7 linked regions of the Homo sapiens genome follow. The protein of the gene in region 2 purifies or fractionates together with the protein of the main gene of each other region. This does not show direct contact. Each region holds a gene or a part of one and is shown on either strand. Other genes may lie near its edges. The genes, in order: MAP1S, KLHL34, BAG1, ARHGEF1, EIF2A, UTP15 and DDX11.

Region 1 (2,767 bases), on a different chromosome or scaffold from region 2:
GAGGAGGGTCTCTGGCCTGCTGTGCTGTTCTTTGTTTTTTTTCTGAGACAGAGTCTCACTCTGTCATCCAGGCTGGAGTGCAGTGGCGCAAACATGGCTCACTGCAGCCTCGACCTCCTGGGTTCAAGCAACCCTCCCACCTCAACCTCCCGAACAGGTGGGACCACAGACACGCACCATAACGGCCAGCTAATTTTTTTTTGAGATGGAGTCTTGCTCTGTCACCAGGCTGGAGTGCAGTGGTGCGATCTGAGCTCACTGCAACCTCTACCTCCCGGGGTCAAGCGATTCTCCTACCTCAGCCTCCCAAGTAGCTGAGATTACAGGCATGCGCAACCATGCCCAGCTAATTTTTGTATTTTTAGTAGAGATGGGGTTTCACCATGCTGGTCAGGCCGGTCTCGAACTCCTGGCCTCGTGATCTGCCCGCCTCGGCCTCCCAAAGTACTGGGATTACAGACGTGAGCCACTGTGCCCAGCCTACGCCCAGCTAATTTTAAAATTTTTCAGTAGCACTGGGGTCTCACTATGTTGCCCTGGCTGGTCTTGAACTCCTGAACTCAAGTGATCCTTTGGCCTCGGCCTCCCAAAGTGCTGGGATTATAGGCATAAGCCACCACGCCCGACTCAACGTTTAATTTTGGATGAACCGCCAGACTGTTTTCCACAGCAGCTGCTTGACGCTAGCCAGTCTAATGGGTGTGAGGTGGGATCTCATTGTGGTTTTGATTTCCATGTCCCTAATGATTAGTGATGTTGCATCTTTTCATATGCCTATTGGCCATTTGTCTGTCTTCTTTGGAGAAATGTCTATTCAATTCCTTTGCTCATTTTAAAATTTTGTTTTACTTTTTAGAGACAGGGTCTCGGTCTGTTACCCATGCTGGAGTGTAGTGCAAACACAGCTCATTATAGCCTCAACTTCCTGGGCTCAAGTGATCCTCCCAGCTCAGCCTCCCAAGTAGCTGGGACTACACAGGTGCATGCCATCGTGCCTGGCCAATTGTTTAATGTTTTGTAGAGATGGAGTCTCACTATGTTGCCCAGGCTGATCTTGAACTCCCAGCCTCAAGCGATTCTCTCGCCTTGGCCTCCCAAACTGTTGGGATTACAGGCATGAGCCACCATACCTAGCCCCCTTTGCCCATTTTTAAATTGAGTTGTTTTCCGTTGCTGAGTTTTAGGAGTTTTTTAAATCATTCTGGACATTAATCCTTTAGCAGATAAATGGCTTGCAAATATTTCCTCCCATTCTGTGAGCTGCCTTTTTATTCTTTTGATAGTGCCCTTTGATGCACAAAAGTTTTAAATTCTCATGAAGTCCATTTTGTCTATTTTTTTCTTTTGTTGTCTGCACTTTTGATGTCAGACCCAATAAATGATTGCCACATCGATTTTTTTTCTTTTTTCTTTTTCTTTTTTTTTTTTTTCAGATGAGTCTGGCTCTGTTGCCCAGGCTGCAGCATGGGAGCACTATCTTGGCTCACTGCAACCTCCGCCTCCCGGGTTCAAGCGATTCTCCTGCCTCAGCCTTCCTGAGTAGCTGCGATTACAGGCACCCACCACCACACCTGGCTAATTTTTTTTGTGTTTTTAGTAGACACGGGGTTTCACCACGTTGGCCAGGCTGGTTTCAAACTCCTGACCTCAAGTGATCTGCCCGCCTCGGCCTCCCAGAGTACTAAGATTATAGATGTGAGTCACCATGCCTGGTCAAATCCAACAGTGAGAAGCTTCTACCCCATGTTTTCTTCCAGGAGTTTTAAGTTTTCCATTTCACATTTAGGTCCATTTGGAGGTAATTTTTGTATGTGGTGAAAAGATCCAGTGTCATTCTCTTGCATGTGGAAGCCCAGCTTTCCCAGCACCATTTGTTGAAAAGACTATCCTTTCCCCATTGAATGTTTGGAACGCTTGTTGAAGATCATTTCAGCATACATGTGATGATTTATTTCCGGGCCTCTATTGTATTCCATTGGTCTATATGTCTGTCTTTATGCCAGTGCCACGCTGTTTTGATTACTGTAGCTTTGTAGTAAGTTTTGAAATCTGGAAGTGTGAGTCCTCTATCTTGATTCTTCTATTTCATGATTGTTTAATCTCCTTTTCACATTGTTCATTGTTCATGTATAGAAATTCAACTGTGTTTTGCCTGTGGACTTTGTACCTTGCTTCTTTGCTGAATTCGTTTATTATTATTTTTTGAGATGGAGTCTCACTCTGTCGCCCAGGCTGGAGTGCAGTGGCACAATCTCAGCTCACTGCAACCTCCACTTCCTGGGTTCAAGCAGTTCTCCTGCCTCTGCCTCCCGAGTAGCTGGGATTACAGGCACCTGCCACCACGCCCAGCTAATTTTTGTATTTTTAGTAAGAGACAGGGTTTCGCCATGTTGGCTAGGCTGGTCTTGAACTCCTGACCTCAAGTGATCTGCCTGCCTCAGCCTCCCAAAGTGCTGGGATTACAGGCGTGAGCCACTGCACCCCCAGGCCTGATTTTTTACATTATTGTTCATAAAGTCTGTTGAACTGGCATTTTCTTGTAGAATTAAATATCTGTGCCTGGCTTTGGTATTAAGACAATTCTGGTCTTATAAAATGAGTTAGGAAGTGTTCCTTCCTCTTCAGTTCCTCGGAAAAGTTTGAGAAAGGCTGATGTTAGTTCTCTAAATGTTTAGTGGCTTCCCCAGGGCTTTTCTTTGTTGGGAGGTCGTAAGTTACTGATTCATTCTCCTTGCTAGCTACAGGTATGTGCTGATTTTCTATTTTT
Region 2 (4,023 bases):
TCTCCAAATTGGCAAAAAATAAATAAATAAATAAATAAATAAATAAATAAATAAATAAATAAAATAAATAGAAAGAAAGAAAAAGACCAGTTATATTAATCATTTAGTTATTTAAGAACAGGATGGAGATGGAGAGATGCTTTCCTAAAGTCTCAAGATCAGGCTGGTTTTAGTCATTTCCATGCTGGGGCGTTTCTTGTAAAAAATAACTTTATGAGGAAGGGCCCTACGAAATTCCAGCTTTACCGAGCTTGCAACCGTACGGCTCATTATCCCGGGATAACATCGAGGATGTAGCAGCCAGTAATTAGATCAGAGCGTGGAAAATCGGGGAGAGAAATTGGAAGGAATGACTTTTTTTTTTTTTCCCCAAAGGAAGTGTACAATGAGTGGCAGAAAATCCAAGTCAACCACAGTTTCCTTGTTCATGCTGCAAAGGGATGGGTCGGGGCAGGGTCCAAGAATAGGAAGGGAAAACTCAGGTGAGGTCTGGGAACGGGCGTGGGAACAAAGGTGAAACGAGCCAGCCTGGGAGACGCGAGCTGCCTCAGGAAGGGCTCAGAGTAGGCCCAGAATCTCTCAAGGGTGAGTCCAGGTGAGGGACACGTTACCTAGCGCCGCTGGCGGGGAGCTTGGGATTCGCCCGGGCGTGGTTCCCGCCAGTGCCTCTTCAGCGCGCAGCGGCCTACTGGGTGTCAGCGCGCAAAGTCGCAGCTTAATCCTCGCTCCCGCTGGATTAATTAGGGCCTCTTCAAAGCAGAAAGTTGAGCCAGGGCTTCTTTCCCAGACACAGGGACACCGGGAGGTCTACACTCCTCCTGCCCAGCCGGACGCCCCTCCGCCGACACTACCGGGTCGAGGGGCTCCGGCGACTCGTGCCTCTCCAGTGAACTCCGGCTCCCGCAACCCCAACCGGGTTCCTGGGACCCTCTGGTGACACTGGTGGCCAGTAGGGTCACTGGAGTCAAGCCCTTGGCCCGGGCCGCTTCACCCGCGCCCGTGCCCTCGGTTCGCGGCCAGCAGTCAGGGCACGGGGCGGGGCGCGCCCGGGAGGCCGAGGCGGCGCGCTATTCCTGTCGCTGTGAGCTACCGGCATGTTATGTGCGGCGCCCAATCACGCCTCTGACCCGCCGCTCTGACCTGCGCCCTCCCCTCCCTAATCCCCTAGGCTTTGAGTTGATCCTCCGCGCGGAACAAGCTCACCCCCCCACTGCCCCGTGACCAGTTGTCCCCGGCCTTCGCGGGTGCCCGCAGAACCCGTCCTCCTCGTCCACCCCGGAGAGGTCAGAGTCCTCGCCCTGCACTCCCGGGACGCCGCATCTGCGCCGTCGGACATCCAGCACCCCCGGAGTCCACCGGCAACTCGGTTCTTCCAGGTGATGGTGTGCAGCCACCGCCGCCCCTGGCGTGCAGGTGTGGGCTCTCCACATTGGGCCGGGGAGGGGACTTCGGGCAACGCGCTGGAAGCCTCGGCAGTCGTGGAAACCAAGCCCCACACTCCCGGGAAGCCTCCAAATTCCGCGCCCTCCGTTACTAGGGGCCTCCGAAAACCGTTTCCAGACTGGATTTGCTCTGAGAGGGGCACTGGGCGATCTGCAGGTCTGGATGAAGGAGCCCTGGGCTTTAAACTGAGCAGGCAGAAATGGGCCCCTGCTAGGGGCTCTGTGGCTTACGCGGGGGTCCCGGGAGTGTTGTGCCCCGGGATGCCTCCGGCCCTGCCCAGCAGGCCTCTGGTCCCACCAGGCTGCTTCCAGCCCTGGGTAGAATGAGTTACTTCCTGTCTTACTGCAAAGCTCATGGCGGCGCGCTGCTCACCGGCTACCAGGCCCTGCGCGCCGAGGGCTTCCTGTGCGACGTGACACTGGAGACCGAGGGCAGCGAATTCCCGGCGCACAGGTCGCTCCTGGCGTGCTCCAGTGACTACTTCAGGGCCCTGTTCAAGAGCCACACCCAGGAATCCCGGGCGCGCGTGATCCACCTGCACGTGCCATCGGCAGCCGGCCTGCAGCGCCTGCTGGACTTCATCTACACTGCCTGGCTGTCGCTTTCCATGGACACTGTAGAGGACACTCTGGAGGCCGCCAGCTACCTGCAGGTCACTGAGGCCCTGGGGCTCTGTGGGCGCTACTTGGAGCGCCAGCTGGCTCCAGAGAACTGCTGCTTCGCCGCCAACGTGGCAGCGCGCTTTGGCCTGGCTCACACGCTGGACGCGGCCGAGCGCTGCATCGTGAGCCACTTGCAGGAGCTGCTGGCGCGGGGCGCGGGCCCCGCGGGACTCCTGGAGCTCAACCCTACATCGCTGAGGGCTGTACTGGGTGCCCCCGACGTGGCGCGGGTGCCCGAGGCCCGGCTACTGGGCCTGGCGTTAGCTTGGTTGCGGCAGGAGCCCACAACTGAGCGCCTGGCACACTGTACAGAGTTGCTGGAGCGTGTCCGCTTTGGCCTGGTTCCCGCCGACGTACTGCGGCGCGTGTACTCGGGCTCTGGCCTCGTGCTGCCCGCCCGGGTCAAGGGCCTCATCATCCAGGCCCTCAACTACCACACGACGCCCTCCCGCCAGCCGCTCATGCAGGGCGAGCAGACCAGCATCCGGAGCCCCCAGACCCGCATCTTGTTGGTGGGGGGGCGCAGGGCACGGGAGGTGGTGATTGAGGAGGTCGCGGCCCCGCAGAGGGCAGCTAGGGGCCAGGTCGCCGCCCCAGAGCCCGAGGAAGAAGAGGAAGAGTTGGAGGAAGAGGAGGAGGAGGAGGAGTGGGAGCTCACCCAGAACGTGGTGGCCTTCGATGTGTACAATCACCGCTGGCGCAGCCTTACGCAGCTACCCACACCACTGCTGGGGCACAGCGTGTGCACCGCGGGCAACTTCCTGTTTGTCCTGGGTGGGGAGAGCCCTTCCGGCAGTGCATCCTCTCCCCTGGCCGACGACTCGCGGGTGGTCACGGCCCAAGTGCACCGTTACGACCCGCGCTTCCACGCTTGGACGGAAGTGCCCGCCATGCGGGAAGCGCGGGCCCACTTCTGGTGCGGCGCGGTGGGCGAGAGGCTCCTGGCCGTCGGGGGCCTGGGTGCGGGCGGTGAGGTGCTGGCCTCGGTGGAGATGTACGACCTGCGTCGGGACCGCTGGACGGCGGCTGGGGCACTACCGCGGGCTCTGCACGGTCACGCGGGGGCCGTCGGGGACCGCGGTGTTGTGTACATCTCGGGGGGCAAGGCAGGGAGAGGCGAGGGCGGAGCGAGCAGCCTCCGGGACTTATACGTCCTGGGCCCTGAGGAGCAGGTTTGGAGCAAGAAGGCACCCATGGGCACCGCACGTTTCGGGCACCACATGGCAGTGCTGCGCGGCGCTGTGTTTGCTTTTCTGGGGCGATACGAGCCCTTCTCTGAGATCGAGCGCTACGACCCCGGCGCCGACCAGTGGACTCGGTTGCGGCCGCTGCCCTACGACCGCTTCTGCTATGGGCTGGCCGTGGTCGAGGAGACAGCGTTGCTGCTGGGCGGCCTCAAGTGGCGGGACTCGCGCCAGGTGCCTACCCGCAACGTAGTGGGCTACGACCTCGACCTGGACCGTTGGGAGGACATCGGCTGCGCGTTGCCCTGGGCCTGGAGCGGCCTGCGGTGCGCAGTGCTGCAGCTGGCCGAGGGTGGGGACGACGAGAGGGAGGGAGAGGTTGGAGAGGCGCTAGATTTGGTGCTGGGCTGAATGGGTCAGTCCGGTTTCCTTCCGCAATGGAGGAGAAAGTCGCGCTTGGTTAGTCTTACAGAGCAACGGATGGGCTTTTTCTAAGAAAGGGATTCTGGGAGCAGAGTGGCTTCTGAAGGTTAACAGGCAAACAAGGCCTTGAGCAAAGAGAAACATTTCTCCTTGAGCTGAGAATGGGAGACAGCGGGGCGGGGGGTCAAATAGAAGGCTATATGAATCAACTTCAGTGAGCTGGTGAAAGAAAATTTTTAGAAAGGCTCACGCAAGGCTAGAGAAGGACTTTCACAAATAAAATATGACCTTATTTTCCCTCTTACAGTTAA
Region 3 (2,738 bases), on a different chromosome or scaffold from region 2:
CCTTCTCACGGGAGAAGAAGGGGTGCTCTCTCCCCTTCTCACGGGAGAAGAAGGGGTGCTCTCTCCCCTTCTCACGGGAGAAGAAGGGGTGCTCTCTCCCCTTCTCACGGGAGAAGAAGGGGTGCTCTCTCCCCTTCTCACGGGAGAAGAAGGGGTGCTCTCTCCCCTTCTCACGGGAGAAGAAGGGGTGCTCTCTCCCCTTCTCACGGGAGAAGAAGGGGTGCTCTCTCCCCTTCTCACGGGAGAAGAAGGGGTGCTCTCTCCCCTTCTCACGGGAGAAGAGTTTCACAGGCAGAAACCCCTTGGGTGAGCAGATCTGCGTGGGTGGGGCCTGTGCAATCACCTATCACATCTGCCCAGCAGTCCATGCATTAGGGCCTCTTTTCTCAACCCTTAAGACAATAAAGGCTGTTAAGGCTGTAAATTCCAATGCTGACGGAGATTCTGAGGCCAAATGCAGCTATAGAAGTTTCACTATTGATGTGTGCATTCAACATTCATTTGTTCTCCAAATATTTATTGAGGTCTTACTATATACAAGACTATATAACAAGTTATGCTTGTTATATATGTTATATATGTTATGTTATATATATATATGTTATATATGTAATATAACTATATTACAAGTTATGCTTGAAATAATGCTGTTACCAAGATAAAGAAGCTCCTTCACCCAAGGAACCCTGGTGTTAAAGGCAAAGATTAACCAAATAATCCCACAAGTAAACTATCATGGACTATGTAAATGCTGTGAAAGAAATGTATGGGAAGTCGAGAGAGGATCCCACCTGGGGGCTGGACAGGGTCTCAACACAGTAGGTGAGGGTTCTCCATGCAAGAGACATGTGAGTTGAATTCTGAAGGATGAACAAAAGTCACCTATACAAGGGTAGGGTTGGAGGAAGGAAGGTGAGGAGCTGTTCAAGCAGAGGTAGTAGCAGGAGCAAAGACCCCCAGGCAGGAGAGGGTGCAGTGCATCTGAGGACCTGAAAGAAGAGTGGCTGACAGCAGACAGCCAACAAATGAGGGGGTTGAGATGAGATGGGAGAAGGCATGGGGTAAAGACTTTTGCCTAAAGAGAAAGTGAGCCATTGGAGGGTTCTAAGCAGGGGACTGACATGGCAAGATTTGCACTTCATGATCACTCGGGCTGCTCTAAAGAAAATGAACTAGAGCAGAGAGGAAGTGGGAGCTAGAGGGAGAGGCAGAGGACAAGAGGAAAAAAATCAGAGAATGGGCCTGTGCAACCCTGTGTTGGTTGAGAGGCAGTACAGTAGAGGGGAAAAGCACTGGCTCTGAAACCAAACCACCCAGCTTTGTGTCTTGGCTTTGCCGCTTACTCTACAACCTTGCGCTAATGACCTAAGTTCTCTTGGTTTCCTCATCTCTAAAATAAGGATATCTGTCTACCTCTCAAGTTATGTAAGAATTAAATGACTAATATATATGAATAGTTTAGAATGGTGTTCGGCAGTTTGGTGCACAGTAACTTCTCATTAAATGTTGTGGCCCACGCCACACAGCTATCACACAAAAATAGATCAATAGTGAACCACTCTGATTAAAGTTGGGGTGCGGTGGGCTGGGACCCGAGCCTTGTCCACAAGTCTACCTCTACTACCTTGTCTGAGGTCTTAACCTGCCCAGTCCTGAATTCCTGGGACTTCAACGACTCTCTCTCTGCCAAATGATGTGAGTCTTTAGGTAGAGTTATAGCGCAAAGGGCTACTATCAATGTTATTAAGCATAAATTATGACTAGAGCCACAGAATGATTTCCTCATTAATCCAAAAAAAAAAAAAAAAGCAAACCACTCTTCTACTTTATGATGAGCACATAAACAGTTTTTTTTTCTTTTTATTTATCTACTTTTACTTACTTAAATTTTAGAGATGGGGTCTTGCTATGTTGCCCAGACTAGACTCAAACTCCTGGGCTCAAGTGATCCTCTAGCCTCAGCCTCCCAAGTAGCTGGGACTACAGGAAGGAGCTACTGCACCTGACTCAATTTTTTTTTTTTCTGAGATGGAGTCTCACTCTGTGACCCAGGCTGGAGTGCAGGGGCGTAATCTCGGCTCACAGCAACCTCTACCTCCCAGGTTCAAATGATTCTTGTGCCTCAGCCTCCCCAGTAGCTGGGATTATAGGCACATGCCACTACGCCAAGCTAATTTTTTTTTTTTTTTTTTTTAAAGCAGAATGGGGTTTTGCTATGTTGCCTGGGCTGGTCTCAAACTCCTGGCCTCAAGTGATCCGCCCGCCTCAGCCTCCCAAAGTGCTGGGATTATAGGCATGAGCTGCTGCGCCAGGCCTTAATTTTTTAAAAACAATGATGGGGTGGGGGTGGGGGACAGTCCACAAAATGGATAGAACAGCTGTGAAGGAAACATAGAACTCAGAAGGATATGGTTAACAAAAATGCCTTTGAAGGAAGCACATGTCACTCCTGAGAAGTTTATGGTTGGCTTCACCACCTGCCTGCTTTACTCATTCTGGTGCCTTCTCTTTGCCCTTCCTAATCCATGGCTCTGGCCTGGTTTCAAGCACAGACTCAGTCAACACTGGGTTCTAACCTTCTGAAGACTTGCTTGGGGACAAGGAAGCCTTGCATCAACCACAGGCTCCATCCAAGGAACGGCCCCCTGGTATCTCATGGCCTGTGGCTAGTCAGGGTCACTGGGAGGTGAGGACAAAGTCTAGAACCCAACAACCCAGCCAGATGCTCTGGAATTAGG
Region 4 (3,500 bases), on a different chromosome or scaffold from region 2:
TTTTGTATGTTTAGTAGAGATGGGGTTTCACCATGTTGGCCAGGCTAGTCTCGAACTCCTGACCTCAAGTGATCTGCCCACCTCGGCTTCCCAAAGTGCTGGGATCACAGGCATGAGCCACTGTGCCTGGCCTAGTGCATTTCAAGTGCTCACCAGCCATAGGTGGCCGATGGTCCCCATGGTGAGCAGTACAAATAAAGCACATTTCCATCTTCCAGAAAGTCCTAATGGGTAGCACATGGCTCATGTTTTTTTTTTTTTTTATCATGTCCTTAGAAGGATCTGTGACCCAAAAAGTACTCAACTACTCCCCTAAAATTTTTGAATAAGTATCTTTTTCACTATGAAGTAATCTGTAAATAAGCTTTCAGTCAAGTCCCAAACCTTTCTCTTGGGCTAGGCACAGTGGCTCACGCCTGTAATCCCAGCACTTTGGGAGGCTGAGGCGGGCGTTCGAGACCAGCCTGACCAACATGGAGAAACCCCGTCTCTACTAAAAATACAAAATTAGCCGGGCGTGGTGGCACATGCCTGTAATCCCAGCTACTCAGGAGGCTGAGGCAGGAGAATCACTTGAACCTGGGAGGCGTAGGTTGTGGTGAGCCGAGATTGTGCCATTGCACTCCAGCCTGGGCAACAAGAGCAAAACTCTGTCTTAAAAAAAAAAAAAAAAAAAAAGCTTTCTCTTTTTGCCACCAGCCTCCCTAGCCACCACACAATTAGCAAAGGAAAAAAGGAAAAAGACAAAAATGATACACTCATCATCTCTCCACGCAGAAGCAAGCACTGCTAATATACTGATCATTCTCCCAAACTTTCCCCTGTGGGGATCTTTTCTCCCCTAAGCAATTAAGATCAAACTAGTAACAACAATCTCATTAAAATGCTCTTCCTTGACTGGGCCTGGTGGCTCACACTTGTAATCCCAAGACTTTGGGAGGCTGAGGTAGGAGGATCACTTGAGCCCAAGGGTTCGAGACCAGCCTGGCCAACATGGCGAAACCCCATCTCTACAAAGAATACAAAAATTAGCCAGGCATGGTGGTACATGCCTGTTCAGCTACTCGGGAGGCTGAGGTGGGAGGATCAGTTGAGCCTGGGAGGGTAAGGCTGCAGTGAGCCGTGATTGTGCCACTGCACTCCAGCCTGAGAGACCAACTGAGACTCTGCCTCAAATAAAAATTTAAAAAAATAAATAAAATAAAATGCTCTTCCTCTGTGCCCAGCACTATGCTAAACATTTCACACAAATCATCTCATCTTCATGACAATATCTGAGGTAGGAACTATTAATGCCCACATTTCACAAGCAAGGAAATAAAAGCTTGCACCAGAAATGCAGTGTTCTCAACATCAGCACTGTATTGCACTACTAGAAATGTTTGGAAATGTCCCTTCCACAGTGGCATTCACATTCCATCAAAATGCTCTGTGTTGAAACAATCTGAACTTGGAACAAGAGGGAATTTGAAGCTGCCTTCAAGTTCTCCCGATGGTAAATGACACCAAGATGAACATCTCTCTGCGCCTGTCTTTGCCTTTGCCAGAGCTGGACTGTGTCCTTGGCCACAGTGGGGTGATGGGGGCAGTACTCACCGCTGATGACCTCCTGCCGCTTCACCTGGCTCTTGGGCAGGCTGTGCAGGGTGTCTGGGGGGACGAGTTCCCGCCAGCCGGGAGGCTCTTCTGGTTCAAGCTCCAGTCCCGACCGCCCCGGCTCCCCCTCATCTCCAGGCTCGGGGCTGTGGACAGAGGCCTTGTTAGGGCCCCAGCTTGGGCCATCCCAAGAAGCAGCCTTCAGCCTCTTAGAGCGTTCAACCCCGGTCAGTGGCCTTGGCATTCGATGCCCGCAGGGTGGCCCGTGCAGCAGACCAGGTCTCTAGATCGGACCACACTAGAGTTCCCAGATCTCTAGAAGCATTCTACCCCCTCCTCCTCCAAGGTCTGTGACCACAGTTGGCCTCAATGACCTCGGTCTCCAACGCCCATTCCTCTGTGACTCTGACAACAATCCCTCCCTGATTCTCCAGGCTGCCTTAGTGGATGGGGGAAGGGAGAGGGTTGACATACGTGGCTCGTCGGGCAGGGCCAAGCACTGCCGTGGCGGAACTGGGGTCCATGTCCACGTCGCTCCGGGAGCGGCCCCCACCCCGGCCCTTAGCCCCGAGGCTGCCCCGGGAAGGCCGGCGGCGGTCACTCACCCGCAGGCTCTCTGAGCGCCCCAGACGCCCTGATAGCCTGGACCCCGAGGCCAAGGACAGAGTCAGGCAGATGCCGGGGACAGAGACAAGGAGAGACCAAGACAAGAACAGAGACGAAGAGAAACCAGGACAGGGACAGAGACGGGGAGAGACCAGGGCAGGGACAGAGGTGGGGAGAGGCCAGGGCAGGGACAGAAATTGGGGAGAGACGAGGACAGGGACAGAGACGGGGAGAGACCAGGACAGGGACAGAGACAGGGAGAGACCAGGACCGGGGCAAGGGTGACCAGGACAGGGATCAAACATGCAACAGAAGAGAGGAGAGAGTCAGAGGAGTGGTGGGATTTTAGGGGCACTGGGGTAGTGGGGGGTCTTGGGGGAGGGGGGATACTGAAATTTGATGGGGGAAGGGATGGGGAACCCAGGATGGAGCATAGGACTGACCCCCTCCCTTCCCTGAGGCAGGGGGATGGCAACAGAGGGGGTGTTATGGGGTGGGGAGGATTTCCATACTTAGCTCTTCAACTGGGAGGGTGATGTCCCCACCCACCCCTCACAGGGAGTGAAGGGGAGGGAGTGGCCATGGGGAGAGGGGAGGGGCTGGGAGAAATGGGGGAGGGGCTAGCCCTTCCCCCACCCAGGGCCCAGGCACCCACCTCTTCCACCTTCTGGGGAGAGAGGGGCACAGGGTCAGAGGTGGGCCCAGATGGAACCTGACCCACCTCCCCGCACCCACCAAAGGGTCCCCAAAGCAGCGGCACAAGGACGGGCAGGAGGCAGAGCCTGCCCCCCAGCTGTAAGGGGGACAGGGCCCCCAGGGCACAGAGCAGAGGGGTGGGGGGTTGAGGGACGGGCACCAGGAGGCAGGAGCGAGGCGGGGGGTGGGGGGCAGGGGGCAGGGGGGCTTGAAAGAGAAGGGGAGGAAGGGCTGAAAAAATGAAAAGTGGCAGGGAGATCGGAGGGGGATGGAAGGTGGGGAAAGAAAACCCAGGTGAGAGAGGAGTGGGGAGGAAAGAGAGGAGGGGGAAGGTGAGAGAGGAGGGGGGAGGTGAGAGAGGAAGAGGGAGGTGAGAGAAGAGAGGGGAGGTGAGAGAGGAGCGGGGAGGTGAGAGGAGGGGGTAGGTGAGAGAGGAGGGGGGAGGTGAGAGAGGATGGGGGAGGTGAGAGAGGAGAGGGGAGGTGAGAGAGGAGGGGGAAATAAAGGAGATGGAAGGAGTGGTGGAGAGGAAGGGAGGAGGAGAAGGATTAGTGAAAAAAGGAAGGAGAGGAAGGAGCAGAGGAAAAAGGAAGGATAAAAGG
Region 5 (3,500 bases), on a different chromosome or scaffold from region 2:
CTTTAGTATTAAGTGGAAAGGAACAATGTTTTCTTTTTTTTGTTTGTTTGAGAGGGAGTCTCGCTCTGTCACCCAGGCTGGAGTGCAATGGCCTGATCTTGGCTCACGGCAACCTCTGCCTTCTAGGTTCAAGCAATTTCACCTGCCTCAGCCTCCCAAGTAGCTGGGACTACAGGCACGTGCCACCATGCCTGGCTAATTTTTGTATTTTTAGTAGAGATGGGGTTTCACCATGTTGGCCAGGCTGGTCTTGAACTCCTGACCTCAGGTGATCCACCTGCCTTGGCCTCCCAAAGTGCTGGGATTGCAGGTGTGAGCCACCGCACCTGGCCTTTTCTATTAACATATATTGACTAAAACTATTAGTAACTGACTTAATATCATATTTATAAGTGTTTATAAGTGTTTTTCCTTAAATGGTAACCAATATCATAAATTACTTTAACATGTTAATGTGATGTTACATTCTGTCTGAATATTTTTTATACTTTTTTTTTTTTTCATTGACATAGGTGTCCATCCTGGTCAGAAGATGAAACTCTTTGTGCCCGCAATGTTAACAATGAAGTTCACTTCTTTGAAAACAACAATTTTAGTATGGAAAGATTTATGACATAATTTTATTACTTACTGTAATCGTATACAGTTTCCATTAACTTTTATGACATCATAGGGTTTTCCTAAATACTGTTAATCTATTAATCAATAATTACTCTTACATACATTTGCATAATTCTTTATAAGTCTGAATTCAGTGAAAATCTGTAACACAAAGGTTTTCTTTTACAATAACTTTTTATTATCTGGTAATTGCTATTAAGACATTTGAATATCTTTTCCTGAATTTAATTGCTATTGAAATTCTGTGACACAAATTTTTTAGATATTTTATCGTGTAGAATTTTAAACTTCAGACACCTAGTTCTAGTAACCATCAGCTTGTGGCCAATCTTATCTCATCCATACATCTCTCCAGCTACCATCTCTTACTAAGTGAAAGCAAATCCCAGATATGGTTATACTTTTATATACTTGTTAAATATGTAATTGTAAATATTTCAGAGTAGATTTCTGAAGATTGGGGCCTTTCATTTTTTAAACTTAGCCACAAAACCATTATCACAAATTATTAAATATGTGTTCAAATTTCTACTAATTGCAAATGTTACAATTTTTTTTAAAACTCGGGATCCAAATAAGGTACTGCACATTGTGGTTGATTGATATATCTTTTATGTTTCTTTTGGTCCTATAAGTTCCCACTCTATCTGTTATTTTATTCTTCATAATTTATTGTTTAAGAAACAAGGTTATTTGTCTTTCACGTTTTCCCATAGTTTGAATTTTGCTTTTGTATCCCATGGTATAATTTAACATGTTCATCTGTCCCCTATAAATTGCAAGTTGGCTCTAGAGTTTCAGCTTCAGGTTCTTTTTTAGGTGAGTAAGGGTAAGACTACATTATAAGGTGATGTTCACTTCTTTTATCAAGAAGCACATAATGTCTGGTTGTCTTTAATTTTGTAGGCTTAGCTGACATTAATGTTTCATGCCTGGATGCATTATTTCATCAGTGGTTGCAAATTGTTGATACTCTGGTTTTTTCTCCCTCACTTATTTTTCAGCTGTACTGCTTCTATAAAGAAAAATTTCCCCTTCTACTATTTGGTTACCTAGTGCTGCATTTATATAGAAAAGGCGGGATAAATATTCTTGCTCTTATCAGTTTTAATATAATGTATTCCACCTCTAGCAACCTTCATTGTAACCAATTAGCTTTTTCCCCATTCTTGTTTTTCGAGAGTGGGCCTCATTCTTTTGTCCAAGCTGAGTGCAATCATGGCTCACTGCAATCTCGACTTCCTGGGCTCAAGCAATTCTCCTGCCTCAGCCTCCCAAGTAGCTGGGACTACAGGCTTGCACCACCATGCCCGGCTAATTTTTGATTATTTGTAGAGACAGGATCTCATTATGTTGCCCAGGCTGTTTTTTAGTTCCATTCTTTTTTTTTTTTTTTTTTTTTTTTGAGATGGAGTTTCGCTGTTGTTGCCCGGGCTGGAGTGCAATGGTGCGATCTCGGCTTACCGCAACCTCTGCCTCCCAGGTTCAAGCGATTCTCCTGCCTCAGCCTCCTGAGTAGCTGAGATTACAGGCATGTGCCAACATGCCCGGCCAATTTTGTATTTTTAGTAGAGATGGGGTTTCGCCATGTTGGTCAGGCTGGTCTCGAGCTCCCGACCTCAGGTGATCCACCTGCCTCACCCTCCCAAAGTGCTGGCATTACAGGCGTGAGCCACCACGCCTGGCCTTTTTAGTCCCATTCTTAATGAGCTGTGGATTTAAAAGGTATGTGTTTCAGTCCATTGTAGTTATTTTTCTTATTGATGCTCAAATTGTCTCATCTTTGATCAATTAATCCTTAGTGACTTCTTTGCTATATGGTAAGACAAGTCATTCTAGGATTAATTTGTACATTTCTAACCATTACACCTAGAACTGGCTAATTTTTCAGGAAACCCTGTCGCCTTTTTGGTGTGCTACTTTTGAATAGCTATTGATCTCTGAAATTGAACAAAGAAAAAGTATTAGCTCTTGATCTCATTGAAGGAAACATTAAAAGGTAATAGGGTTTCTTGAAAAATTGGCTGAGTCTAGCAAAAAAAAAGGTATTTAGGTTCTAGAGATTCTTATTTGCTGTTGCATTGATCATTGTTTCTAGGCCTTTTTTTTCTATTTAAAAGATGTAACAATCATAATTTTATTTAAATTAAAGTTTTATACGTATAGTTTTATTTAAATTGAAGACTACAAGGTTTTTATTTAACTTCTATCTTATTTGTATTGCCTTCTGTCACCACCAAGAATCTTGTTACTCTGGAATACCAGGGATGATAATTTGAGAATATCACATTCACATAAGTATTCATTTGGTTTGTTCCACATTATCCACAAGGTATTCTTACAATCTTAATACCAAAAAGTAACACTGTTACTGAAAATAATTTTTTAAAAAGGGTTTGCAGTTCTTTTGTCTTTAGAGCATCCCATTACTGATTGTACAGTTTTGAGTATATCATAGTTAGAATAGGAATTGGTAACTTTGTTCACACGTACCAAAGATGGCATGTAGGCTGATTTTGAGCAGCATCCAATCAGTATAGTTATGCATTTTATTTTCCTGTGTTTGAGGCGCACTGTCACCTCACTGTTTCTGGGTTAGCTTGCTTTCTTGTCTTATTCTCCTCTTTGTGAGCATGTCAAATGAAGAGGGATCACCACTTTGACAGTTTGGTGTGCTGCTTTTGAAAAGCCATTGATCTCTGAAATTGAACAAAGAAAGTATATTAGCTCTTGATCTAATTAACTAGAGTGGCAGTTTTATTAATAATAGCATGGCTCAGACTGCCTGGAATAGAGTAAGCTCTTAATATCAGCCATTGTTACTGTGGTTGTGATCATCATTATCATGCATCTGTTTATCACATTAAGTTACAGAATTT
Region 6 (3,500 bases), on a different chromosome or scaffold from region 2:
AAGAGTGCTTAACTTGGGTTCCGTGGTCCAGTTTCATGGGGCTTATGAATTCCCTAGAATTGTATGTGATATTTTAGGAAATACACGTTTATCTAGGGAGCTACTCTGTAGCTTTTGGTTAACTTTAGTGGGGTCTGTGGCCCAGCTGAGATTATGAATTACTGACCTGAAGACAACCTTACAGCTGGTAATGACAGCTCTATAGGCCTGTACTGTCTTAGAGGCTCTTATGTTGAAGTCAAGTAGGAAGGTGGATTTTCTTCTTGAATTTATAGTGTTTTGCCCCTTAATAAATTAAGTGGCCATCACAATTTTATATTATAACTTTGTTTTCAGGATTGCCAATGTCCGTGCTGAAATTTGTTAAAATTTAACAGAAATTTATGTAACATGATTCTATTTAGTGGTAAATCTCTTTAGAGTTTTTTAAAGAACTTTTTGAAATTTTAAAAATTAAAGTGCCTTTGCTTCCATATTCAGCAGCTAAGTGGAATTGTTTATATACTAGAAAATATAATTTTAAGGCTATCCTTTAATTTTTTTTAACTTTACAATATAGGAGTATTTACACTTCTTAATTGGTTTGGGGGCAAACACTTGTAAGTTTTCTCTTTCTTTCATGATTTCCCCCTATGAAGACTCCCTGAAACTCAGCTGCTTTTTTTTTAATCTGAGAAAAAGGAGCATTTTATGTTAGAAGGTATCAGAAAAATAATTTTCTTGCTTTTTAATATACTGACCTTCAATCTTTCAGAGCAGTTCATACAGTAGATTTTACAGCTGACAAATATCACGTGGTCTCTGGGGCTGATGATTATACAGTTAAATTATGGGATATTCCAAACTCCAAAGAAATTTTGACATTTAAAGAACACTCTGATTATGTGAGGTGTGGATGTGCTAGCAAACTTAATCCGGATCTCTTTATAACAGGTTGGTGAACTCTATTCCCTCCTGAAGCAAATAATCTCACGGGGATGTACTTTAATGTTGCTATGGGACTCTTTTGGGATGGAGGGGTTTAAATTTTTTTTATAAAGGAATATGTTTCTGATTAATTCTTCAGTTTTTAAATTAATTTTTATGTATGTATGTTTGCATTTATTTTCAGACAGGGTCTCACTCTGTTGCCCAGGCTGGAGTGCAGTGATGTGACCATAGCTCACTGCATCTGCTACCTCCTGGGCTCAAGTGATCCTCCCACATAAGCCTCCCAAGTAGCTGGGACTACAGGTGCCCACCACCACGTCCAGCTACTTTGTGTATTTTTTTGTAGAGACGGTTTTGCCATGTTGCCCAGGCTGGTCTCGAACTCCTGGGCTCAAGTGATCCACCTACCTCAATTTCCTCCCGGAGGACTGGGATTACAAGTGTGAGCCACCATGCCTGGCTTCCAATTGTTTTTTATTTTCTTATTCTTCTTTTGTTGATTGTTCATGTCTTCCAAATGTGTTTGGAAAAATCAGGCTGTCTTGAAAACATAATAGACTCTCAGAACTGTAATGTATAGTACCCTGCCTCAAGCAGCCAAGAAACAAAGAGTGCAGTTTAGCCTTTGTGGGTGCCTTTACAAAGATTTCCAGATGATTCAGTAGTGACAGTAGTCCAAAGAAAGAAATATTTTAAGATCAGAGCAAGTTAGATTCTGTATAGTATTATGTAGTGCTTCTTCAGACACGATCAGTAGTAGATGGTTTGGAGGTCCTGTGTCTTCATGAATATACATATATGTCTTTTTAAAACTCCATCTAAGCTTTTTTTCCTTTTAAAATTTATATCTGGATACACACAGTTTTTGTTGTTTTAAACAGTCAAACTAAAAATTCAAAAATTGACATTTTAGGATCATATGATCATACTGTGAAGATGTTTGATGCACGAACGAGTGAGAGTGTTCTCTCCGTTGAGCATGGGCAGCCAGTGGAGAGTGTCCTACTTTTCCCCTCTGGAGGTCTTCTGGTGTCAGCAGGTACTTCTTAAAAATAGCTTTCACCAATATTGTTGGTTTTGAATCACGTTTGTTTAAAATCAGTTGCTCTTTGTAATTTATCAGTGTGCATTTGAATTGCATATCTAAGTCTTTGTTCAAACAGTTGATAGGTAGGACTGGCAAGCAGTTATCATTTATTGTGTACCTAATGTGAGCCAGGCACTGTGCTGTTACATATGAACTCTAATGCCCTAGATGATGCTACAAGGTAGTTAGCTTTTTCCCTACTTTACAGCAATGAAATAAAAGTTTTAACTTATTTTTCAAGGCAAAGTGGTAAGTGGCAGATCTGAAATCACAGAACTCGAGAGCTCTGTGTATTTAGCCCTGTGCCATCTTATTTATTTAGCCCTGTGCCATCTTATTTAACCCCAGAAATTTAGCCCTGTGCCATCTTATTTAACCCCAGAAATTTAGCTCTTATGTATTTAGCCCTGTGCCATCTTATTTAACCCCAGAAATTTAGCTCATACTCCTTTTACTCCTACCTAAGAGATCTGCAGCAGCTTTTGAAAATCAGTTATTTGAGATCTAGTAGGCTTGTCTCTTTTTCTGTGACTCTCTTGATTGAAATGCCACTACCCAGCAAATAGCTGCTAGTACTAGAGAAAGGAGATAATGTGGCCTCAAAAGGGGCCTTGGTACATTTTTCAACAAGTTGGGACTGAGATGTTTTTCTCATTTTGCACATATTGCATTTTCATAATTACAGTGGAAGAAGTAAATTGGCTTTTTTCATTTGTAAATAAAGTAAAAATGTGTTCATATTAGAAGAATGTATAGGTAGTATGTATACTTGACAACATATATATTGCTGTGTGTACCTCCTTTTTTTTTTTTTCTTAATTCTAAAATCTGGCTAGAAATTACTCTGTTTTATATTCTTTTCCCCAGTACCTATTTGATTTAAAAATAAGTTGAGGCGGGATGTGGTTGCTCACGCCTGTAATCCTAGCACTTTGGGAGGCTGAGGCAGGCGGATAGCTTGAGTCCAGGAGTTTGAGACCAGCCTGGGCAACATAGCAAGACTCTAAGACTCCATCTTTAATTAAAAAAAGAAAAAAGTTGATAATGTCAGATGTGTCTACTTTTCTTGCTGTTATTCTGACAAATGGAAAAAATATCATGTTGAACAGGGAGAATAGAAAGCTGTGTGCTGATCTCCACTGTGTGTCACTAGCTAATTGTGACCTCGGGCAATCCCTTAAGGTCTCTAGACCTTGAAAATGAGAGGGTTGGACTAGATCAGTGATTTCAACTGTGATCCCTCTTGTGAGGTGCCACATAGGAGTGGAGAGGTGGGAACTGTGAGTTGGGTTCCAACTCCTGTTCCCCAGTCAAGATTTCAGTCTCCCCTTCCATCCCTTTTTCTGTCTTTCCATATTAGACTTTTTTGCTTGATATTTTGCTGCAGATCTACATTATTCACTTCCACTGCTATATAGAATTTCTTTTAAAAAATGATTTTATTATAATTTTCTTAAAATGGACTCTTTCAGTTATACATTTA
Region 7 (3,500 bases), on a different chromosome or scaffold from region 2:
CTTTGAACAGAAGAAGCGTGAAGAAGAGGCACGACTCCTTGAAACTGGAACTGGCCCCTTACATGATGAGAAAGATGAATCCCTGTGTCTGTCTTCTTCCTGCGAAGGGGCTGCAGGCACCCCGAGGCCTGCTGGAGAACCGGCCTGGGTTACTCAGTTTGTGCAGAAGAAAGAAGAGAGGGACCTGGTGGACCGACTAAAGGTGAGACCTGGGGTATCCGGAAGTGGGAGTACTGGAGGAAACAGGGCTTCAGCGATTGTTCTGGGGCGATTCCGAGACTCAGGCAGTGCATGCTCCCCTGCCGTTGCCGTGCCTCTCAGCTCTTCCCTCAGCTCCTTGGGTCTATGGTGCTGCCGCTGTGCTGTCTTTTTTGAGCTGGAGGTCAGCAGGCCTTCTCCACATAAGGAACTGTTGGTGCCCATTTATTACTCACCTGGGAAAGGACCTGATCATTGCCATTGGCAGCATGGTTCAATGGCTGCAAATGGATCTGATGGAGAGCGTGTGGCTTTGGGAGGAGTGTGCCGCCTTCCGCAGTGAGCAGCGAGGCTGGGACCGGCAGGGATGAGGTCCCGGGAGGGGATGCGGCAGCCCTTGAGTGCTGGCCGGGGAAGGAGAGATGCCCCCAGTGAGGAGGCGCCGGGCTGAGTGGCCCAGACTCCTTAGGAGAGGCCTGGTTTTGGGCTTCCTTGGTGATTTTCCTTCATGTCTGCCTCCTGTAGGCGGAGCAGGCCAGGAGGAAGCAGCGAGAAGAACGCCTGCAGCAGCTGCAGCACAGGGTGCAGCTCAAGTATGCAGCCAAGCGCCTGGTGAGCCTCATTTCTTGGGGGGCAGGATTATGTCCAGGCAGGGTTGCTCTGCTTGGAGGCTCATGGGTGCGTGGTCAGGGCCTTGGTCTCCCCTCCGTGACCCTCACTGGCTATGTGCTCCCGTACAGAAGCTGGGCTGTGAGTGGTTGAGGCGTGGATCCTAGGAGTCGACCTCTCTCCAGCCAGGCAGCCAGGCCTATGTGAATGGGGCGTGGTGTGCTTTGTCTCTGGCATGTGGGGAGGTGGGTACTGGTGCTGAGACTTCTTCCTCCCTCACCACCTCCACTACCCCTGTCCAGAGGCAGGAAGAAGAAGAAAGAGAGAATCTCCTCCGCCTCAGCAGGGAGATGCTAGAGACAGGCCCGGAGGCTGAGCGGCTGGAGCAGCTGGAGTCTGGGGAGGAGGAGCTGGTCCTCGCCGAATACGAGAGTGATGAGGAGAAAAAGGTGGCGAGCAGGTGAGACAGAGGCGGTAGCACTACCCTGCCCCAGGCCAGGGGACACCCTTGAAGACAGCTCTTTCCCTCATGCCACAGATGCCATGAAGCACCTGGCAAGAGGCATGGTGGCCTCTGCCCTCTGCTCTAAGCCGGGTCCTTCCTAGGGTCCATGAGTGCCAGTGGCAGTGAGGACAGTCACCGGCCTGGCCTGTGTCCTCTCAGCTGTCCTCACGGCAGCTCAGGCAGGGCAGGAACATTTGTGTCTGCGCCTTATACACAAGGAGGCTGCAGCCCCACAAGGAGAGACTCCTTGGCTGAGGCCACAAGCCTCGGCAGTGGAGAGCTGGGCTAGAACTCAGCTGGCCTGGCTCTAGATCTCAGGCTCTGAGGCAGCTGACTGCACTGGGTAACCTGTGAGGTGCCAACCATCAAGGCGTCCTTAGCCTGAGCTTTCCTTCTCCCATAAAGCCTCTGTTGGTCCAGACTCAAGGTTTCCACTTGATGAGCCATGAGCTGCTGGGTGACTTAGCCCTGAGCAGGCCACCCAGGCCATTTCGGGCCCACAGGATCCCTGGTCACAGCCCTGTTCCCATTCACACTGGAACCTCACCACCATCCCTGAGTGTCTGCTCTGAGTATGGCACTGTCCAGATGCTGTGGACATAGAAGGGAAGAAGACATGGAGGGGACAGTTAATAGACATGAAAACAAATAGCACCTATGTGAAGTCAGCATGTTTGCCTACAAGGAAAACAAAATGGTGATGTGGATGGGGTGGGGGGCTGCACCTGATGATGAGTCCCGTGTGTCCTGTGACATCCTGGCCACCACATCTGTCGGAGGGTAACTGCAAGACCAGAGACCCTCCATGGATATTCCTGAAGGTTCATCCCCGGCCTTCACAGTCTGTCTGCAGGGCGCCTTCTGATGCCACCTCCAGCCGCCATCCACCAGACGCCAGCTTCCCCGCTGCCCTGAACTTCCTCCAGCGCACCAGGCCTTCCTCTGTCCTGTCTGAGGATTTGCTCATGCAACGTGCTGTGGCCAAACACCCTGCCCTCCTCCCTTGGCAGATGTCTTCCTCTCCTTTAAGGCCTGGCTCAGGTGTCGTCTTGGTGGCTTCGGGTGTCAGCTGCTCTGTTTTGCTCATGCACCTGCTTGTGCTTCTGTTGTTGCCTCCTCTCCCTGGCTGGGCTCGAGCTGCTTCAGGGCAGGAACCACGTCTTTATAGTTTGATGTTCCCAGAGCTGACCCAGTGTTTGGCATAGGGGTGTGCTCAATAAAATCGAGTTGACATGAATGAGCAGATGCTGCCTCGTTGCAGTCTGGTAGTGTAATTCCAGGCTGCGCATGTGAACTTCGACTTCTGCCCCTGCCCAGGGCAGAGACCACCGTGTTGCTTTATGCCTCGCTGGTGAGAGGGGGTCATAAACAGTTTGTGCTCCATGAACCCTTCCTGCCCGCCTCCGAGGTCATGTTTCTGCTCCCTCTCTTCTCCCTTAGAGCCCGTGGGGACAAGGCAGAGAACTTGAGTGGAGATGGAGGTGGTGAATATTAAAGGAACAAAGTGCTCCTTCAGGTCTGGGCAAGAGCCATGGATCCTGTAGGTCAGCTTCTGGGGCTTCCCATGCCCTCACGTTTCAGGAGATAACGTGAGCCTCGGAGGACCTGAGTTCTGAATAGAAAATTTTTGCTCTTCATTTCTTCACACACCCAGCCTCTCAGTGAGCTCCTGCTGGCTTTGTCCAGCATGCGACATAAGATTGAATCCAAGCCTTTTAAGATAGAGCCGCCTGCTCTTTAGTGACCATGAAGCCAAGCCTGTAATAATTACTCTTCTGATAGCCCAAGACAATTGTATTCTGTTTTGTTAGAAAGGAATTTCGAGGTGAACAAAAATGTTTTCTTTTTATGTGATGTTGCCATAGGTAGCGTGTGCCTGTCAGATGGTTTTGTGTTTTCTGAGGAGCATAGACTAGTAGAGCTAGCTCAGCTTCAGGCCATGGGATGCAGGGCTGGCTTCCCTGCCAACGCCTGGCGCTGATGGATTCTTCCCGCATTGCTGGGAAGGGCAGACTGAGGCACTGACACAAGAAGAGTTGTAGCTGGTCATAAGTGACAGCATCCTCTGTTCACTCGATTGGTCAGTTGTAGCTTCATCCAGGAGATGGTCATGGGGTTCCTGCTGCATACCAAGCTCTAGGTGAGGCCACGGGGACTCAGCAGAAACAAGGCCGACCTGGGTCCTCCC

The links.
Region 1: the proteins of KLHL34 (region 2) and MAP1S purify together in Homo sapiens (affinity purification with mass spectrometry; one large-scale study listed by BioGRID and IntAct). This does not show direct contact.
Region 3: the proteins of KLHL34 (region 2) and BAG1 purify together in Homo sapiens (affinity purification with mass spectrometry; 2 studies listed by BioGRID and IntAct, with this or other methods). This does not show direct contact.
Region 4: the proteins of KLHL34 (region 2) and ARHGEF1 purify together in Homo sapiens (affinity purification with mass spectrometry; one large-scale study listed by BioGRID and IntAct). This does not show direct contact.
Region 5: the proteins of KLHL34 (region 2) and EIF2A purify together in Homo sapiens (affinity purification with mass spectrometry; one large-scale study listed by BioGRID and IntAct). This does not show direct contact.
Region 6: the proteins of KLHL34 (region 2) and UTP15 purify together in Homo sapiens (affinity purification with mass spectrometry; one large-scale study listed by BioGRID and IntAct). This does not show direct contact.
Region 7: the proteins of KLHL34 (region 2) and DDX11 purify together in Homo sapiens (affinity purification with mass spectrometry; one large-scale study listed by BioGRID and IntAct). This does not show direct contact.

What each region holds. Positions count from the first base shown.
Region 1 is NC_000019.10:17,729,480-17,732,246, forward strand, and holds part of MAP1S (microtubule-associated protein 1S), read left to right. Parts: intron 1-2,767. UniProt on the Homo sapiens protein: Microtubule-associated protein that mediates aggregation of mitochondria resulting in cell death and genomic destruction (MAGD). Plays a role in anchoring the microtubule organizing center to the centrosomes. Binds to DNA. Plays a role in apoptosis.
Region 2 is NC_000023.11:21,655,531-21,659,553, reverse strand, and holds the start of KLHL34 (kelch-like protein 34), read left to right. Parts: upstream 1-1,223; 5' UTR 1,224-1,765; coding exon 1,766-3,700; 3' UTR 3,701-4,023.
Region 3 is NC_000009.12:33,251,971-33,254,708, forward strand, and holds the end of BAG1 (BAG family molecular chaperone regulator 1), read right to left. Parts: 3' UTR 501-2,738; downstream 1-500. UniProt on the Homo sapiens protein: Co-chaperone for HSP70 and HSC70 chaperone proteins. Acts as a nucleotide-exchange factor (NEF) promoting the release of ADP from the HSP70 and HSC70 proteins thereby triggering client/substrate protein release.
Region 4 is NC_000019.10:41,896,684-41,900,183, reverse strand, and holds part of ARHGEF1 (rho guanine nucleotide exchange factor 1), read right to left. Parts: intron 2,870-3,500; coding exon of another isoform or gene 2,858-2,869; intron 2,239-2,857; coding exon of another isoform or gene 2,071-2,238; intron 1,743-2,070; coding exon 1,597-1,742; intron 1-1,596. UniProt on the Homo sapiens protein: Seems to play a role in the regulation of RhoA GTPase by guanine nucleotide-binding alpha-12 (GNA12) and alpha-13 (GNA13) subunits. Acts as a GTPase-activating protein (GAP) for GNA12 and GNA13, and as guanine nucleotide exchange factor (GEF) for RhoA GTPase.
Region 5 is NC_000003.12:150,563,787-150,567,286, forward strand, and holds part of EIF2A (eukaryotic translation initiation factor 2A), read left to right. Parts: intron 1-512; coding exon 513-595; exon of another isoform or gene 596-3,320; intron 3,321-3,500. UniProt on the Homo sapiens protein: Functions in the early steps of protein synthesis of a small number of specific mRNAs. Acts by directing the binding of methionyl-tRNAi to 40S ribosomal subunits.
Region 6 is NC_000005.10:73,568,743-73,572,242, forward strand, and holds part of UTP15 (U3 small nucleolar RNA-associated protein 15 homolog), read left to right. Parts: intron 1-754; coding exon 755-933; intron 934-1,843; coding exon 1,844-1,969; intron 1,970-3,500. UniProt on the Homo sapiens protein: Ribosome biogenesis factor. Involved in nucleolar processing of pre-18S ribosomal RNA. Required for optimal pre-ribosomal RNA transcription by RNA polymerase I.
Region 7 is NC_000012.12:31,083,860-31,087,359, forward strand, and holds part of DDX11 (ATP-dependent DNA helicase DDX11), read left to right. Parts: coding exon 1-202; intron 203-723; coding exon 724-810; intron 811-1,109; coding exon 1,110-1,267; intron 1,268-1,273; exon of another isoform or gene 1,274-2,353; intron 2,354-2,366; exon of another isoform or gene 2,367-3,452; intron 3,453-3,500. UniProt on the Homo sapiens protein: DNA-dependent ATPase and ATP-dependent DNA helicase that participates in various functions in genomic stability, including DNA replication, DNA repair and heterochromatin organization as well as in ribosomal RNA synthesis.